Homo sapiens: one gene and its partner. The protein of the gene in region 2 purifies or fractionates together with the protein of the main gene of each other region. This does not show direct contact. Each region holds a gene or a part of one and is shown on either strand. Other genes may lie near its edges.

The links. The genes of interacting proteins can lie anywhere in the genome.
Region 1: the proteins of DNAI2 (region 2) and CCT3 purify together in Homo sapiens (affinity purification with mass spectrometry; 2 studies listed by BioGRID and IntAct, with this or other methods). This does not show direct contact.

What each region holds. Positions count from the first base shown.
Region 1 is NC_000001.11:156,328,293-156,331,792, forward strand, and holds part of CCT3 (T-complex protein 1 subunit gamma), read right to left. Parts: intron 1-3,500. UniProt on the Homo sapiens protein: Component of the chaperonin-containing T-complex (TRiC), a molecular chaperone complex that assists the folding of actin, tubulin and other proteins upon ATP hydrolysis.
Region 2 is NC_000017.11:74,305,083-74,308,932, reverse strand, and holds part of DNAI2 (dynein axonemal intermediate chain 2), read right to left. Parts: intron 3,715-3,850; coding exon 3,491-3,714; intron 1-3,490. UniProt on the Homo sapiens protein: Part of the dynein complex of respiratory cilia.

The DNA.
Region 1 (3,500 bases), on a different chromosome or scaffold from region 2:
CCGGCTGCCCCTACTGGGAAGTGAGGAGCCCCTCTGCCCGGCCACGACCCTGTCTGGGAGGTCTACCCAACAGCTCATTGAGAACGGGCCATGATGACAATGGCGGTTTTGTGGAATAGAAAGGCGGGAAAGGTGGGGAAAAGATTGAGAAATCGGATGGTTGCCGTGTCTGTGTAGAGAGAAGTAGACATGGGAGACTTTTCATTTTGTTCTGTACTAAGAAAAATTCTTCTGCCTTGGGATCCTGTTGATCTGTGACCTTACCCCCAACCCTGTGCTCTCTGAAACATGTGCTGTGTCCACTCAGGGTTAAATGGATTAAGGGCGGTGCAAGATGTGCTTTGTTAAACAGATGCTTGAAGGCAGCATGCTCGTTAAGAGTCATCACCACTCCCTAATCTTAAGTACCCAGGGACACAAACACTGCGGAAGGCAGCAGGGTCCTCTGCCCAGGAAAACCAGAGACCTTTGTTCATTTGTTTATCTGCTGACCTTCCCTCCACTATTGTCCTATGACCCTGCCAAATCCCCCTCTGCGAGAAACACCCAAGAATGATCAATAAAAATAAAAATAAAAAAAAAAAATGTACATGTTATTCATTAGTATGTGCTCCAGTGTTTGAATTCAATATATTTTGTTTCAATTCCAAAGTGTCAATCATGTATATTGAAAGAAAAATAATCAAAAAATACAGTCACGTACCATTTAATGTTTCAGCCAACAATGGACCACATATATGACAGTGGTCCCATAAGATTATAATATCATATTTTTACTGTACCTTTTCTATGTTTAGCTATGCTTATTATACAAATACTTACCACTGTATTATAACTGTATTCAGTACAGTAACATGTTATACAGCTTTGTGGCCTAGAAGCAATAGGCTATACCATACAGCCTAAGTGTATAGTAGGCCGTACCACCCAGGTTTGTAAAGTACACTCCATGAAGTCTGCATAGTAATGAGACTGCCTAATAACGCATTTGTCTCAGAACGTATCCCCATCTTTTTTTTTTTTTTTTTTTTTGAGACGGAATCTTGCTCTGTTGCCAGGCTGGAGTGCAGTGGTGTGATCTGGGCTCACTGCAACCTCCACCTCTCAGGTTCAAGTGATACTCCTGACTCAGCCTCCCGAGTAGCTGGGACTACAGGCACGCGCCACCATGCCCAGCTCATTTTTTGTATTTTTAGCAAAGACAGGGTTTCACCATGTTGGTCAGGATGGTCTCGAATTCCAGACCTCGTGATCTGCCCACCTTGGCCTCCCAAAGTGCTGGGATTACAGGCGTAAGCCACCGCGCCCAGCCCATATCCCCATCATTAAGCAGCATATTATTGCATTTTAAAAGATGGCTGAGTGGCTGGGCATGGTGGCTCACGTCTGTAATCCCAGCACTTTGGGAGGCTGAGGTGGGAGGATCACCTGAAGTCAGGAGTTTGAGACCAGCCTGACCAACATGGTGAAACCCCGTCTCTACTAAAAATACAAAAATTAGCTGGGCATGGTGGCGGGTGCCTGTAACCCCAGCTACTTGGGAGGCTGAGGCAGGAGAATTGCTGGAACCCGGGAGGCAGAGGCTGCAGTGAGCCAAGATCGCGCCAGTGCACTCCAGCCTGGGCGACAGTATGAAACTCTGTCTCGAAAAAAAAAAAAGCAAAAGCCTGAGTAAGATAACTTAGAAAAGGATATACCCTATTAAGAAATTATTAGAACTGTAACAGAAGATTTCTTTAGGGCTGGTCAAGTGTTCTTTTTCACATTCTTAAATCCATCTACATCTAAGATACTTAGACTCATGGATACTTATTCTACCCACTATCTCTAGATGATTCAACTGAAATTATCAGCTAGAAAATTTTCTCTGATATGTAAAGCTCATGTTCTATTACAAAAAATAAAAAATAAAAAAGAGTATGAAATCTTTCCTCCCTCCTCTTTCATCCTTCCAGGTTTTCCCTAAAAGTCCATAACTGGCTATGTTCTGAATCCTCAAAAGAACTGGATCTAAAGATGGACTAGTTGACTGTGACTCTCAAGGACATTTTTATTCAACTCACCATTCTTAAAATGCAGTACAATAGGGCCAGGCGCTATGGCTCACGCCTGTAATCCCAGCACTTTGGGAGGCTGAGGTGGGTGGATGACCTGAGGTTGATAGAGTTTGACACCAGCCTGGCCAACATGGTGAAACCACACCTCTACTAAAAATACAAAAATTAGCTGGGCTTGGTGGCATGCGCCTATAATCCCAGCTACTCAGGAGGCTGAGGCATGAGAATCACGAGCCCAGGAGGCAGAGGTTGCAGTGAGCCAAGATGATGCCACTGCACTTTAGCTTGGGCTACAGAGTGAGACTCTGTCACACAAAAATAAATAAATAAAATTTAAAAATAAAAATAAATAAATAAGGCCAGGCGTGGTGAGACCAGCCTGGCCAACATGGTGAAACCCCATCTCTACTAAAAATTAGCCAGGCACAGTGGCGGGCACCTGTAATCCCAGCTAACAGAAAGGCTGAGACAGGAGAATCACTTGAACCCCAGGGGTGGAGGCTGCAGTGAGCCAAGACTGTGCCACTGCACTCCAGCCTGGGCGACTCTGTCTCAAAGATAAATAAATAAATAAATATAATTTGAAAAATTAGCTAGGCTTAGCCAGGCACGGTGGCTCACAGCCTGTAATCCCAGCACTTTGGGAGGCTGAGGCAGGTGGATCATGAGGTCAGGAGTTCAAGACCAGCCTGGCCAATATGGTGAAATCCCGTCACTATTAAAAATATAAAAATTAGCCGGGCGCGGTGGTGGGCATCTGTAATCCCATCTACTCAGGAGGCTGAGGCAGGAGAATCGCTTGAACCCGGGATCAGAGGCTGCAGTGAGCTGAGATTGCACAACTGTACTCTAGCCTGGGTGACACAGCAAGACTCCATCTCAAAAAGAAAAACACTTTGGGAGGCTGAGGCAGGAGATTGCTTGAGCCCAGGAGTTTGAGGCAAGCCTGGGCAACATGAGACCCCATCTCTACGAAAAATAAATAATAATAATTTTGATTAAGAACTTTATTTTTAGGTATGTGGGCCAACACTATAAATTAGCATCCCTTGGCTGGGCGCAGTGGCTCACACCTGTAATCCCAGTACTTTGGAAGGCCGAGGTTGTCAGATCACCTGAGCTCAGGAGTTCGAGATCAGTCTGGCCAACATGGTGAAACCCTGTCTCTACTAAAAACACAAAAATCAGCCAGGCGTGGTGGCGCATGCCTGTAATCCCAGCTACTAGGGAAGCTGAGGCAGGAGAATCACTTGAACCTGGGAGGTGGAGGTTGCAGTGAACTGAGATTGCGCCAATGCACTGCAGCCTGGGCGACAGAGCAAGACTCTGTCTCAAAAACATAAATAAATAAATAAATAAATAAATAAAATTAGCATCCCTTATTTTAAAATAGTCCCTCTCAGGCCAGGCGTGGTGGCTTACACCTATTATCCCAGCACTTTG
Region 2 (3,850 bases):
CGTCACCACACCCAGCTAATATTTTATTTTTGCTAGAGATGGGGTTTCACCATGTTGGCCAGGCTGCTCTCAAACTCTTGACCTCAGGTGTCTGACAGGCTGTTCTTTAAAGGGCTCTGGGCTGGTCATGTGCCTGTAATCCCAGCACTTTGGGAGGCCAAGGCAGGAAGATCGCTTGAAGCCAGGATTTTGAGACCAGCCTGGACAACATGGAAAGACCCTGTTTCTACAAAAAATAAAAAAATTAGCCGGGTGTGGTGGTGAGCACCTGTGGTCCCAGCTCCTCGGGAGGCTGAGATGGGAGGATCGCTTGAGCCCAGGAGGTCGAGGCTGCAGTGAGCCATGTTTGTGCCACTGTACTCCAGCCTGGGCAACGTAGTGAGACCCTGTCTCAAATAAAATAAAGAAAGGGCTCTGGGCACAGTCCTTCCCGTGGGCTGGCCACTGGCATTTCTCTGCTGCTAACTCCAGGCAGCAGGCACGTGTTGCTGGACCTGGTCCCAGCCCTGGGACTCACGGATGGGAGTCAGAGGAAGGACATGCCCAGAAAAGCTGCTACCGCTGAGATAAGGAGAGTGTCACTTCCTACTTGGTTTCATCTGGGTTTTCAAGAGTTTCTTCAGTGAAGACGGAACATTTTTTTAAAAGGGACACACACACAGTGCAGCCTTCAGATTTTCACCCAGACCTCCTCTCCCTTCCTCCATTGCAATATAGTTGTAGCTGGGCCCCTGGTGAGCAAGGCAGACTACACTTCCCAGTCACCTTTGCAAACCTAGTGTGTTGACAGCCAGACCACAGTGGGAGAAATGATCAAGACTAAAGAAAGGATCTGGGCCGGGCGCGGTGGCTCATGCCTGTCATCCCAGGACTTTGGGAGGCCGAGAATGGTGGATCACCTGAGGTCAGGAGTTTGAGATCAGCCTGGCCAACATGGCAGAACCCTGCCTCTACTAAAAATAAAAAAATTATCCAGGGGTGTTGGTGGGCGCCTGTAATCCCAGCTACTCAGGAGGCTGAGGCAGAAGAATTGCTTGAACCCAGGAGGTGAAGGTTGTAGTGAGCCAAGATCGTGCCACTGCACTCCAGCCTGGGCAACAAAGAGACTTCATCCCCCCAAAAAAAGAAACATCTGGAGATTTTTGGACAATGAATAATTTTTAGTATAAGTATATACCAAATATTGCATGGGACATACTTATACTAAAAAAAAAATAGTTTTTTTTTTTAAAATTCAGATTTAACTAAGTGCCAAATATTATTTTTTTTTGAGACGGAGTCTCACTCTGTCGCCCAGGCTGGAGTGCAGTGGCGCAATCTCGGCTGGTCTTGAACTCCTGATCTCAGGTGATCCACCCGCCTCGGCCTCCCAAAGTGCTGGGATTACAGGCGTTAGCCACCAAGCCCAGCTGATTTTTTGTATTTTTATTAGAGATGGGGATTCACCATATTGGCCAGGCTCGTCTTGAACTCCTGACCTCAAGTGATCCTCCCGCCTCAGCCTCCCAAAGTGCTGGGATTACAGGCATTAGCCCACTGCACCTGGCCCAGGGTCAAATATTCTTATTTGCTAAATTTGTTTAACCTTATGCAGGAGGAGGACAAGGGAGACCCAGGTTCTACGACACAGGTCCACCAAGTCCCTCTAGGAACCAGCCCTGCGAAAGGCCTATGGGTGCTGTGCTCGACACCCTGCTCCTTTCACACAGCCCTGGCAGCCTGCAGGACCTGAAGACATTGGGAAGGCTCCTAAAGCCTGTAAAGGGCTTCACATCTACTGGGAACCCCCTACTTGCTATGAGGCCTGGAACAATGCACTGCCCTTGTCAGCCAGCGTTCCCACCCCTGTAGAATGAGGACATCGAACCAGGTTTCTGCTCCCAAAGCAAGGACTGGCTGAGTCACAAGCCTGGGGTTGCTCCTTAGCAAACCCATTCCTGGGCTAAGCCCAAGATTCTATGTTAGTACCCCCAGGGTTGGGGCTGAGAATCTGGATTTTAAAAAAATCACTCCTCCACCAGGCACGGTGGCTCATGCCTGTAATCCCAGCCCTTCGGGAGGCTGAGGCAGGCGAATCACCTGAGGTCAGGAGTTTGAGACCAGCCTGGCCAACATGGGGAAACTCTGTCTATACTAAAAATACAAAAATTAGCTGGGTGTGCTGGCGTGCGCCTGTAATCCCAGCTACTCAGGAGGATAAGGCAGGAGAATCGCATGAACTCGGGAGGTGGAGGTTGCAGTGAGCCGAGATCTCGCCATTGCACTTCAGCCTGGGTGACAGAGTAAGACTCCATCTCAAAAGCATTTTAACAAACAAACAAAAACTCCTCCCAAGATATTCTGATGCAACCAGATTTGGGAAGCACTGGAACCAAAGATGCTCATTAGGGTTGCTGGTGGCTTTGACGTTGCAGGAGTCTGTGGTTCTGTGGGCAGGAAAGGAACCCCAGGATGTTTTTTTTAGCAAGAGAAAAAAGTAATTATTTATACATGCAATGCACAATACACATGGCAGTGCTCGGTGGTGAATGACTCAAGGGGGTGGTTAGAATTCGGGCTTATTACCTAATTTAGGAGATGAAGGGGAGGAGGAGAAAGGGCACTTTTAGACAAGGTAAATGGGCCCTAAGAAGAATGGAGGGGGATGTGATAGTCTAAGCTTCTCTGGTCTAACCATTGTGCTCATAGCTCTGTCTCAAGCTCCCTGTCTGTTGCTCTCCTCAGAGGAGTGGCACTGAGCAAGACAGGCTATGCCTCACTGCTGAATTGTGCCAAGGCACCCGCATTTCCCAGCCAAGCTTCCTTGGTTCACACCCAATCTCGGCTCCTCACTAGCTGGGAGAGCAGGAGCAAGTGGCTTGGCCTTTCTGTAGCCCAGTTCCCTAACATGAAAAATGAGATGAAGAGAAGAGCAATGCTGCCTCCTCCTGGGGATAGTTTGAGGATTATGAAAATTAAGCCAGCCAGACGCGGTGGCTCACACCTGTAATCCCAACGCTTTGGGAGGCCGAGGTGGGCAGATCACCTGAGGTCAGGAGTTCAAGACCAGCCTGGCCAACGTGGCAAAATCCCATCTCTACTAAAAATACAAAAATTAGTTGGGCATGGTGGCAGGTGCTTGTAGTCCCAGCTACTCAGGAGGCTGAGGCAGGAGAGTCTCTTGAACCTGGGAGGTGGAGGCTGCAGTGAGCCGAGATCACGCCACTGCACTCAGTCTGGGGAACTAAGCGAGACTGTCTCAAAAAAAAAAAAAAAAAAAAAAGGAAATAAAATTAAGCCATGGCCATTATTTTTAGTAACTGAGTGTTTGAAGCTTATCACTTTGTGGAGTGGCTGGAGCAAGTCACTTGCTAACACGAGCTCGGGTGTTTGTGGAAAGGTTTTTCTCCATTTTACATATGGAGGCTCGGGACTCTCCGGGGCCCAGCTGGGCTCCCTCCATCCCCTCCTGTCTCCTGCATCCCCTCCTGTCCCCAGCATCGCCTCTTACTTGGTCCACATGATGGACGATTCCCGGCTGTCTTCAGACCAAATGCGGGCTGTCCAGTCGCCAACCGTCAGGAAGTTCTTCGGGTAGAAGGGGTTTCTCTGGAGGGCGTAGATGGGGCCATGATGGCCCGGGAAGGTGCACACAATCTTTTCAGCTGACGTCTTGGCCTTGCGGTTGCAGGAGATGACGATGCCCTGCTCGGTCCCCACCATGAACTTGGTGGGCTGTGGAAGGAGTGACACAGGAGGGGAAGACTCCACGAACCATCAATTCTGGGATTAGCGGGCATGGACAGGAGCTTGCTTGGGGGGTCTGCAGGCGCTAGAAAGGCCCTCAGATCAAGCCTTGGCAAGGGCTGTG